Homo sapiens: one gene and its partners. The protein of the gene in region 1 interacts with the protein of each later gene in a biochemical or structural test. Each region holds a gene or a part of one and is shown on either strand. Other genes may lie near its edges. The genes, in order: DERL1, RHO and SELENOS.

The links.
Region 2: the proteins of DERL1 (region 1) and RHO form a complex in vitro, tested with the Homo sapiens proteins (one study listed by BioGRID).
Region 3: the proteins of DERL1 (region 1) and SELENOS form a complex in vitro, tested with the Homo sapiens proteins (one study listed by BioGRID).

Annotation. Positions count from the first base shown.
Region 1 is NC_000008.11:123,014,639-123,018,387, reverse strand, and holds part of DERL1 (derlin-1), read left to right. Parts: intron 1-2,802; coding exon 2,803-2,941; 3' UTR 2,942-3,749. UniProt on the Homo sapiens protein: Functional component of endoplasmic reticulum-associated degradation (ERAD) for misfolded lumenal proteins. Forms homotetramers which encircle a large channel traversing the endoplasmic reticulum (ER) membrane.
Region 2 is NC_000003.12:129,526,990-129,530,738, reverse strand, and holds the start of RHO (rhodopsin), read right to left. Parts: upstream 2,101-3,749; 5' UTR 2,006-2,100; coding exon 1,645-2,005; intron 1-1,644. UniProt on the Homo sapiens protein: Photoreceptor required for image-forming vision at low light intensity. Required for photoreceptor cell viability after birth.
Region 3 is NC_000015.10:101,270,876-101,274,624, forward strand, and holds part of SELENOS (selenoprotein S), read right to left. Parts: coding exon 3,717-3,749; intron 3,621-3,716; coding exon 3,545-3,620; intron 1,982-3,544; coding exon 1,902-1,981; coding exon of another isoform or gene 1,896-1,901; 3' UTR 1,889-1,895; exon of another isoform or gene 1,316-1,888; intron 771-1,315; 3' UTR 1-770. UniProt on the Homo sapiens protein: Involved in the degradation process of misfolded endoplasmic reticulum (ER) luminal proteins. Participates in the transfer of misfolded proteins from the ER to the cytosol, where they are destroyed by the proteasome in a ubiquitin-dependent manner.

The DNA of each region.
Region 1 (3,749 bases):
AGCAGGATTTTGACGATCTGAGAGGAGACGCGCACACACCCAGAAGCATGTAATAGTCGTGTGACCGTTCTGTCAGTGAGGCAAAAGGCTGTCGAAGAACGGGCCAGTTAAATCACCATCTGGGTGTCACAGCCTGCCTGACAATCATGCCTAATCTCATATCAGGGATATGCAGTAATAGCTTGCATTTGAAAGCTTTAAAAAAACAAACAAACCAAACCCTTCCACATCTTGCTAATTTTAATGTTTTGCAGTTCTGTCATTCCTCTAAGGGATCAGTGAGGGCAGTAAAACTTGAGCAGGCCTCCTCTTTCTCCCCTTCCTTTTATAGGGTAGGGGTATGTTTTTCAAAGACTTTTCAAATTGTGAACTGTAATATACAGAGATATACCATATTGGTGGTTGTGGTGTGTGTGTTTTTCTTTAAGAGAATAAAAAGAAACTTGTTTCTCTTCTGAGCCTTGAATTGCCTTCAGGCTAAAAAAACAAATGACCAATCTGGTTTCTAATTATCAAAGGACATAATAACAGCAGGTTTGGCTTTCTGATCTAGGTTTATCAAGTAGGATGGCAGATGCATCAATTAAAAAAAGCTTGGTGCTTTTGGGGGGCAGCCAACAGTTACTTTACTTTAAATGGCCATATTCTAACTTAACGGCTTGTAGCTACTTCTCAGTTGTGGGCAACACAGGATACAAGATTCTAGTGGCAAAATCAGCGAGCCCTGGAGCCTGCCTTCCACTTGAACTTTCTCTGTTGGGGGAAGTCCTTCTGCTAAATTTTGCATAAAGATCAGATGACAAAATACAGCTCCTTGCAAAAGCAGTAACTGCTTTGAAATTACCATAAATTTTTGTTGATTATGTATAATTGGGTATCTTTTTATACTAATTATTTGCATTTAATTTCACTATCTACTTAAGCAGTGGAGATGGCTTCCATATTGTCTTAGAGTGAGTAGCAAAGCAAGACAGCCCTAGCATTTTCTCCAGCAAGTGTTCTATTTTATTATGTACTTTGGAGGAATATTATTGTACCAGAAGGCATGGATGTTGAGAAACCAGCACTTGGAAAATACATTTTGATTTAATGGTAAAGCTGTATTTGTTTAAAATGGAGGAGGTGAGTATAGGAAGGTATAACTGCTTTTCTAAATGGAATGCTGATACATTTGTATCACCATTTTCCATTCCATTTAGAGTAGTTATATCTTCTCTGTACACACTAAATTTTGTGTTTAAAAGGGGTTTTTGGCCAGGCGTGGTTGCTCACGTCGGTAATCCCAGCATTTTGGGAGGCCGACGGGTGGATCACGAGGTCAGGAGATCGAGACCATCCTGGCTAACATGGTGAAACCCTGGCTCCACTAAAAATACAAAAATTAGCTGGACATGGTAGCGGGCGCCTGTTGTCCCAGCTACTCGGGAGGCTGAGGCAGGAGAATTGCTTGAACCCGGGAGGTGGAGGTTGCAGTGAGCTGAGATCATGCTACTGCACTCCAGCCTGGTGACAGAGTGAGACTCCGTCTCAAAAAAAAACAAAAAAACAAAAACCCGAGTTGTTGTCTGTTTTGGGAAGAGGCATGAAGGTATCGAGTATGATGTAAACAGACTCCAGTCACTGACTGCTGTCCCTTCCCAGGCAGGATGCATGTAGTATAACAAGTAGTGCAGGGCGCAGGCTCTGGAACCAGGCTGACTAGGTTGGAATCCTGTCACTTTCGAAGCGCTTCACTCAGTGTTGGCTCAATTTTCTTGTTTATAAAACAGGAGTAATAGTAATGCCTACCTCATGGGGTTATTGTGAAGATCAGATGAATTTATAAGCAGGCAGCACCTAGTGTAAGGCAATAATCACTGAGTAAATTCACATAGTAACTGCTCTAGTATAAGGTCAAGTATAAAGCCTGTCCTCTTCAGGGTTTCTGCTGTGGACAAGTCACCTGTCATGACTTACTCTTGCTGCCAAGAAGGGTTTAAGCGGAGGTATCAGATCATGCTCTCTGCCTTCAAGCAAAATTTTAAACATTAGGATCTGCTAAGTGGAATAGGTTTAAACACATTCTCAGTTTACTAATAAAAGAGTCAAAGATGGGAAATAGTTGGAAAATACTATTGAGAGTGTAGGCTTGGGTTTAAGTTCTCTTAGCTGTTCTGTGAACTCTTAGTTTATTAATTTTAAGGTGGGAAATCATCTAACCGTCTGGGGCCCCAGCTCTCCCACCATCTGTGAGAAGGGAAGAATGTACCTGGAAGGCAGATTCTGAATAAATTTTAAAACATACCCATACTTCCAACATAGAAAGCCTTCTTCCCCTGTCTCCTTTGATGGGCTCAGCTGAGAGCCTTTTAGAAATGCTGTGCAAGGCTCAAACATGCAGGCTGTGGATTTGGCCTTTGAAAGTGAATGTATTTTGTATCCTTTGATCCAGTTTGAGCCATATTTAGATATACCAAGATGCTATCAGTCATTCTTTGGTTGCTGGGCTTGTGGGTGTAATATTTTTGTTTCCATACTGTTCTGCATGGATTACTTTTATAAGCAGAGAAAAAAACGTTCAGAGTGTGAATTTAGCTGAAATCTGAATACATTTAAGAAACATGAAAAACGAATGCCGTCTGTGGTCAGGTCATGGGGCTGAGTACAGAAAAGACAAAGTTAAATAAGACGTCCCTCGCTGCCTTCAACATGACAAGTGCCATGGGAACAGCAGGAGAGGGAGGTGTTCTCGGAGGTCAGATAACTATGTGGAAGTGACTTTGTTCTCTTCTCTCCGTTTGTGTCCCCGTCTTTCTGCACCAGGTACCGCTGGCTGCCCAGTAGGAGAGGAGGAGTATCAGGATTTGGTGTGCCCCCTGCTAGCATGAGGCGAGCTGCTGATCAGAATGGCGGAGGCGGGAGACACAACTGGGGCCAGGGCTTTCGACTTGGAGACCAGTGAAGGGGCGGCCTCGGGCAGCCGCTCCTCTCAAGCCACATTTCCTCCCAGTGCTGGGTGCACTTAACAACTGCGTTCTGGCTAACACTGTTGGACCTGACCCACACTGAATGTAGTCTTTCAGTACGAGACAAAGTTTCTTAAATCCCGAAGAAAAATATAAGTGTTCCACAAGTTTCACGATTCTCATTCAAGTCCTTACTGCTGTGAAGAACAAATACCAACTGTGCAAATTGCAAAACTGACTACATTTTTTGGTGTCTTCTCTTCTCCCCTTTCCGTCTGAATAATGGGTTTTAGCGGGTCCTAGTCTGCTGGCATTGAGCTGGGGCTGGGTCACCAAACCCTTCCCAAAAGGACCCTTATCTCTTTCTTGCACACATGCCTCTCTCCCACTTTTCCCAACCCCCACATTTGCAACTAGAAGAGGTTGCCCATAAAATTGCTCTGCCCTTGACAGGTTCTGTTATTTATTGACTTTTGCCAAGGCTTGGTCACAACAATCATATTCACGTAATTTTCCCCCTTTGGTGGCAGAACTGTAGCAATAGGGGGAGAAGACAAGCAGCGGATGAAGCGTTTTCTCAGCTTTTGGAATTGCTTCGACCTGACATCCGTTGTAACCGTTTGCCACTTCTTCAGATATTTTTATAAAAAAGTACCACTGAGTCAGTGAGGGCCACAGATTGGTATTAATGAGATACGAGGGTTGTTGCTGGGTGTTTGTTTCCTGAGCTAAGTGATCAAGACTGTAGTGGAGTTGCAGCTAACATGGGTTAGGTTTAAACCATGGGGGATGCAACCCCTTTGC
Region 2 (3,749 bases), on another chromosome or scaffold:
AGCTTGGTGCTGGGAGGAGGGGGAAGGGGCAGAGGGACCACACGCTGAGGAGAGCTGGGCAAAGAAATTCCAGGGAATGGGGGAAGTTATTTGCTTAGCGCTCTGGGCCCATAAGGGACACGAATCAGATCAGGGGGTCAGGATTGAACTGGGAACCCGGTAGGGAGTTTTGTGTGTGTGTGTGTGTGTGTGTGTGTGTGTGTGTTGTGTGTGTGTGTGTGTGTGTGTGTGTTTAGCAGAAGAATGCATCCTAATGTGGGGCAGAGTTCCTTGTTGGGAAGGAATGCAGAGGTGGTGGAAACCCAGAATTGGCAGTCCTTCCTCCCTCTCCCTTCTCGGGAAATGAAATAACCCGGACATGTGGGGGCCTCTCCTAGGAGCCATGAAGCAATGTGCAATGTTTTGCCCAGAGGAAGAAGAAGGAAATGATGGAATTCAGACATCTGTCCTGCTCACCACCCCATGAAGTTCCATAGGGAGAGTGGCCATATAGTTAATCAACCAAACTGGGACATTCCTAACAGTGAAAGGGACAATATTTGTAAACTGGGACTGACCCTGCAGAGAACAACCACCCGTAAGTGGCACACCCACCTTCTGGCCAGAACTGAGTGATCTGTGATTATTGAATGCAACAAACACCCAACAATGGCCAGAGATTCCCTGAGAATGGGACCGAGGCAGCAGCCTGGACATGGGGGAGACAGGGCAAGGCTGGCAGAGAGACGCTTGTGGCTGGCGGTAAGCTCTCCCCGTCACCCAGCTTTGCAATGGCTGCTTCTAGCGTCTCCTCCTGCATCTCAGCAGAGATATTCCTGGATCACAGCCAGGAGACCTAGGCTCTTGTTGCTGCCTGGCCACATCCCTAAATGAGTCTCTTCCCCTCTCCCTGCCTCAGTTTTCCTCTCTGTTAAGTGGGATCTGTTATCCCTGCAGCACCCCATCTGTTTTCCTGTTAAATGCAAGACATTATTCTAAAGCAAAAAGGAACTGCTTCAGAGCGGCTGCTTGCGGTTCTCAACACCAGGAGACTTGGAACGCGGCAGGGAGGCTGGAGGGGCACCTGAGGACAGGGGCTGAGAGGGGAGGCAGAGGATGCCAGAGGGGACCGAGCCCATTGCCCAGCACAGGGAAGACCCAATGACTGGAGAATGGAAAATCCACTTCCCACCCTGAGCTTGGGCCCCCAGAGAGGAGGGGTCTGGCTTGCCCAGCTCTCCCTCAGTGCCCAGCCTGGGTCTGACTCAGCACAGCTGCTCCAAGGGAAACAGAGGCTTGGTGCTGCAAACATGGCCCGAGATAGATGCGGGCTTCCAACTCAACTCTGCACCCGTCCCTGTGTGACGCCCCAGCAGGGCGCTTGACTTCTTTGAGCCTCAGCTCAGTTTTCTTGCTGTGAAATTAGACAAGCGCATATTGCTCCAAATAAGATCAAGGCAGTGTTCAGTGCCAGCCCTGCACAAACAGCAGCCCGGCTATCACCATGAATGGTGTTTGTTGACTGAATATATGAGGGCTTTGGATAACATTGACAGGACAGGAGAAGGGAGAAGGCCTCTCAGCCACCACCGCCAAGCCCGGGACTCTCCCAGACCCCTCCATGCTCCCGGGCTCCTGCACACCCCACCCACACCCGGCTCATACCGCCCAGGGTGGCAAAGAAGCCCTCCAAATTGCATCCTGTGGGCCCGAAGACGAAGTATCCATGCAGAGAGGTGTAGAGGGTGCTGGTGAAGCCACCTAGGACCATGAAGAGGTCAGCCACGGCTAGGTTGAGCAGGATGTAGTTGAGAGGCGTGCGCAGCTTCTTGTGCTGGACGGTGACGTAGAGCGTGAGGAAGTTGATGGGGAAGCCCAGCACGATCAGCAGAAACATGTAGGCGGCCAGCATGGAGAACTGCCATGGCTCAGCCAGGTAGTACTGTGGGTACTCGAAGGGGCTGCGTACCACACCCGTCGCATTGGAGAAGGGCACGTAGAAGTTAGGGCCTTCTGTGCCATTCATGGCTGTGGCCCTTGTGGCTGACCCGTGGCTGCTCCCACCCAAGAATGCTGCGAAGGCCTGAGCTCAGCCACTCAGGGCTCCAGCTGGATGACTCTGGGTTCTGACCCCCCCAGACCCTTATAAAGTGACCTCCCCCTCCTAAGCTCCTGGCTGAATCAGCATCTGGGAGATTGGGGGTGTTCATAATCATATTAATCCCCGCTGCAGAAACTGAGGGCCTAATTGGCTTCTAAGAGGGGCCAAGGTGACACTAGGAGGAAGCCTGAGGTCAGGGAGGAGAGGTACTCAGGATCCAGGAAAAGGGAGGAGAAGGTCCCCTAACTTCTGCATGACTTGTCTGTCCCAAGGTCCCAGCTCAGTCTGGTGGCCTGGGTTTGAAATAGGGACCATGGGCCTCTGTGCTATGTCCTCTGGACAGCTAGAGACTTTCTGGTTTATTCTCCCAGTCTCTCATCTCGTCACACAGCCCCTTACCTGTTCGTTCCCCCACAAGTTACCTCTGGAGTCATCCAGTCCCCACACTCCTCTGACAGGAGGAGCTCCATGAGGGCAGGGGCTGCAACCTGCAGCTTCCGTTTCTGGTGCCAGACACATAGCCTAGGGCCCAGGAGCCCAATCCTTGTTGCATGGAATTGGAATTCACTCTCTTGTTCGTTCATTAAACATTTATTTGCAGGCCCCTGGGAATACAAAGATGGAAAGAAACAGCCCTGCCCAGAGGAGCTCAGGGGCTGAGGAGGACTCAAATGTGGGAAGAAGCAGATTCCGTCCAGGGTGGCTGTGAGGTTGTGGAGACAGGGCCTGACTGCCTGGGGGTTGCAGTCTGGGAGGCCATGTTTGGGCCTTTGAGAGAAGGAGCAGTTTGCCAGGTGGCTAGGTGGGGAAGATCTGGGCTGGGGGCAGTTGTAATGGGTCTTGAACGCTAGGCCGGGGAACCTGGCTTTATCCAGAGGAAAGTGAGCAGTGGCTTGGGCAGATCACTGGTGTAGAAAGGTGACTCAAATGCCCCCAAAGATGGAGTGGAGGGAGGGAGGATGGAGGGGGCTACCAGAGCAGGGGAGGGGCAGAACCCTTCAGGGGACTCCAGTCTGAAGGGGAGGCTGGCCCTGGAGGCAGCAGACAGGGCACTGTTGGGGGAGGCCTAATCAGCCACGAGGGCCTCAAATGCCATGTACCAGGTGGCCCCACGAGGGCCGATTCCAGAATAGCAGGATGTACCGTGAGAAAGAAAGTAGTCAGAGCCTTGGGGGCAGATGACTGGGGGAAAATGGAGGCCAACACTGGCAGGTCCCCCTCTCCCCGTCGTCCAAGCAACATGATGACACCTCCCAGGAATGAAGTGGGGTGTCTGGGGCGGCCTGTGCAAGTGCTGAGAGTGCCCGACGTGCGGCCGCTCAGTGACCACTGTCCAGCCAACATGTGTATTGAGCACCTACTGTGGCCCAGACAAGGTGCTTGGTCCTTGGGGACACACAGGGTACACGAAAGAGCAAGCTCCTGCTCACAAGAAGCCAGTGTTTTTGTGGGGTGAGGGGGCACAGGGACCACAAACAAATAGAAGAGCGAATAACAGTAGGGACAGTTCAGTCGCAGCCACTCCCAACACAGGAGGCTTCTCTGAGAAGCTGGAGCTTGAGCTGAGAACGGAACAACAGGAGGAAGCTTCAGGGGAAGGACATCCAGGCGGAAGGACCCCTGAGAGTGCAAAGCCCTGATGCCTGGGAAATATCCCTTAATCTCTCTC
Region 3 (3,749 bases), on another chromosome or scaffold:
AATCATTCTCCCTGACACCCTCCTTCCACCCCTACCAAAAGGTGCTAGATGCAAGGGGGGCATGCAGAATTCAAGCACTGTTTCTCCCCATGGAAAAAAATCAGGTTTCAAGGTAGTCAGTCACATCTAATAGTGTACTTAAACATACCCCTCTACTTTTTGTCGTTTATTTCTATTTATAACAAACTCTTGTGTTGAGGGCTCTTGATGGACGGCAGCAAGGGAGCTGCTCTGCTGCATATGAAACCCCGACCCAGAGCCCCTCTACTCATGCGATGTGTAGTTGACAGCCACTTCACAAACATTTTCAGCTACAGAAAATATATTCAAGGAAGAATGTTAAAAAGTTTCCTTATAACCTACAAGGGGTTCTCTCTAGATGTAAACAAATCTGGATGAAATATTTTAATCCAAGTATACCATTTCCCACGTCGTAAATCTTCTGGGCTGGTGGGAGCCAATCCAGTTACACACTGGAAGGGGAGTGAGGGTCCCAGGGCTTCCCCACACCTCACAAGGCCCACCCTTGTTTCCACTGACCCTCTCTTTGACCTGAAACCCCCAATTGCCTCCACAGGCAAAACAAAACTCAAATCTCTCTAGACTCAAAGACTTAAGACTATGCCAACCTATTTGTTTGTAATTACACTGCTCAAGGCTCCTGTTTCCTCTCCTTCAGCCATTCTCCAGAGCGCTCCTCAAGAGATTTTAAGTCTCTCACAGCCAGACTGTATTTCCCTTGGTCAAGAAGCAACCACGGAATATTCTACCTGCAGGAGATAACAAATGTTGACTAATTTATGTATGAGACCATTCTATAGTACTTTTGCAGCGAATTACCCCCTATTCTGAAGGTTAATGTTTTTCCTTCTGATGATCTAGACGGGGTCCACACACTACAGCATTCAGCCCAAATCCAGCCCATGAGCAGAGAATCTTTTTTAAAAACAATCCTTTAAAAATATAAAAACCTAAGACTATGTGACAGAGATCATATGTGGCCTGTAAAGTCTAAAATATTTACTGTTTGGCTCTTTATCCAAAACTGCTGATAGTGCCTCTGGACAAGAGCGTAAAAGATGAGTCATGGCGTAAGGGAATAACTGAGAGGTCACGTAGAAACCTGGTCAGCCTATGAGGAACCTTGAGGCACGATGTTTCTTTATCCCAGTAATTCGGCAACTCGACTCCAAGCACCCAATTTTGTGGATGAACCCCAAGGAGTCTGTCAACTTTCAAAATCACGGCAGCTGTCTGCCACTTGCCAGACTTATTTTGGGTGAGTAATAATAAATAGAGAAATAAGTAATAGTTAGAGGTTGTAATAAAAAGCTATTTAATGTTTGATAGACAAATTGAAGTCCATAAATCTCCTTGAATAAAGATGCTAAAAATGTTATTCTTGTTTTTTAAATAGTTTCGTTTTTACAAAGTTCTGTACATAAAAATAAATATACAGAAACAAACCCCATCAACTGTCCACATCAGTAATCCTCACTGGTGGGCTCACCATTGATAAGGAAGACATCATTCAACGCAACCTGTCACAGAGACTGTCCTAGCAGCAAGGATTTCTAACCTCAAAAGAACATTACTAGGCCTCTTTTATCAAGATTGCTAATCATCTAGAGGCCTTTACCTACCAACTAGCAATTAACCATGAAATCAATGAATGCAATCACTGTCTCCAAGTAGAATGTGACCAATGACCTCATGCCTAGAGGCAACATCTATACCTTTTGCTGACTGGAGCCCTGACATATGCAGGTGTAGTTAGGAACAGAAATCAACCCCACCTCCCCTTGGCTAGTCACTGTGAAAAGCGTGCGTAAGGCAATTGAATCGAGGGTTAAGGGTTCATCTTGCTAATGTCAAAAGTGACACTAACAAGATTCTTAGCCTCATCCGCCAGATGACGGGCCTCTGCGTCCAGGTCTCCAGGAGCAAGCTCCGCCTCCTTCACCAGACAACGGGTTATAACCTGGGAGGACAGAAAAGCAGCACAACAGTATTGATAAAAATCTGAAAATCTGGGAACATTGTATATCCACAATAAAATTATGAGAGTGACACGCAAAGCACTGCAAAGATACAGATCCTAAGGGACATTTAAAAAAACCTTTTAGCTATGTGAAAAAAAAAAAAACCTTTATATTGTGATTGCCATTTGAACTGATTGTCTGGTGGGGAAAAAAGTCATTCAGCTTCTTTGTCCCAACCTCCGAAACACATGCAAAAGGGTCACCAAAAAACTCTCTCAAGAGGGCCTGATTTAAGTATATGAATCCTCCTATCACAGTGCTTACTAAAACTCATACATTCAAATAAGGGCTGTTCACGCTACAGAAAACAGATTAAAAAAAATCAAGAGTCAAACTTGTCACTTCTACCAGTCAGAACGGGGTCTTCTGTATCCTTCCCTACCCCCAACCACCCCACTCCCTCATGAGCTTCCCAAAGTCAGTGCACAACTGGTAACCTGGTTGAGTGCTAAGGTTCTAGGGCCACCCAGAACTTAAATGTTACTTTTACTCCTTACTTATAGTGGAATCTTTGGGCAATTAAACACTGTGCCTCAGTTTCCTTATTTGTAAAGCCAGGCTAGTCAAAAGTCCCAGCTCAGAAATGCTGGGGATGCTGAAAGAGGCCGTGCAGGCAAGCACACCCTGCATTCCATCTTCTACGATTTCCATTCCTCTCCTAAATATCACCTCTATGTGTCTAAAAATAAGCTTCCGGCAGGACCATTTAAAAATAGCATTTTCTTTCCAGATGCATCACCTTCTCTACAGCAAGCCAGGTTTAGTCTTCTGACACAAAGGGGATTACAGCTCAGCGTTTAAGGTCAGCCAAGTCTGTGGCCCTGCTGCCTTGGAGCCCATGCCCCAGTCTTTCCTCAGTCCTCAAAGACACCATCAGGGCCTCTGCGGTGCCCCTCTCCTCCTATGGAGGATACAAAATCTTCCGCCTTGGTTCCTACAGTGTTCTAGTGTGTTTGTTCTTTCCTTCCTCAGCAGTAACTTGCAACTCTTAGCCAGAATCACCAAGGATTGCTTATTTTCGTTTGTGAGTCCCATCTTCCCAGATTTGAAATTCTCAGGGATGGGATGAAGACAGACTGCTGTGGCATCATCCAGAGTCCCCGGGGCAGTGCTGCACACAGGAAGCAGCTTTGGATGAGCATCTGTCTGCTACTCCTTGTTATTTGCAAGAAACAAGGTGGTCCCAGCCAGAAAGACCAAAACCACTGTGTTCCAGCTCCTTGACACTCATCTGAAGATTGGCAGACAATTCCTCACCCTACTTAGCTCTCCCTCTACGGGGCTGCAGAAGGATCAAGTTAGAATACTATAAGTACAATCCTTCTAAGTACTTAGTGAGGACCTAGGAGGTGATTTGCATCTGTTTCCTTTATTGAATCTTCACAATCCTAAGGAATTAGTCTTAATTTATGGACAAAGAAACAAACAATCTTGTTCCTAAAAGGTAACTATATCCTGTAAGTGTTGAAAATCTGTTAACATTTGACATCAGTGGTGCTTACCTCCTCCCCGCAAAGGCTTTCTGTCCGATTTCCGTTTCAGGACAGATGAAGTGGAAGGCCCAGGACTGTCTTCCTCCTGTTTGAACACACACAGTAGTGTAAGAAGCAATTAAAACATTCTACTTGGCAATCTTCATCTACCGCATGCCAGCCGGCCGAGGTCTCCAGTCACCTGGGGCTTCTTTGCATTTCCTTTGTAACTTTT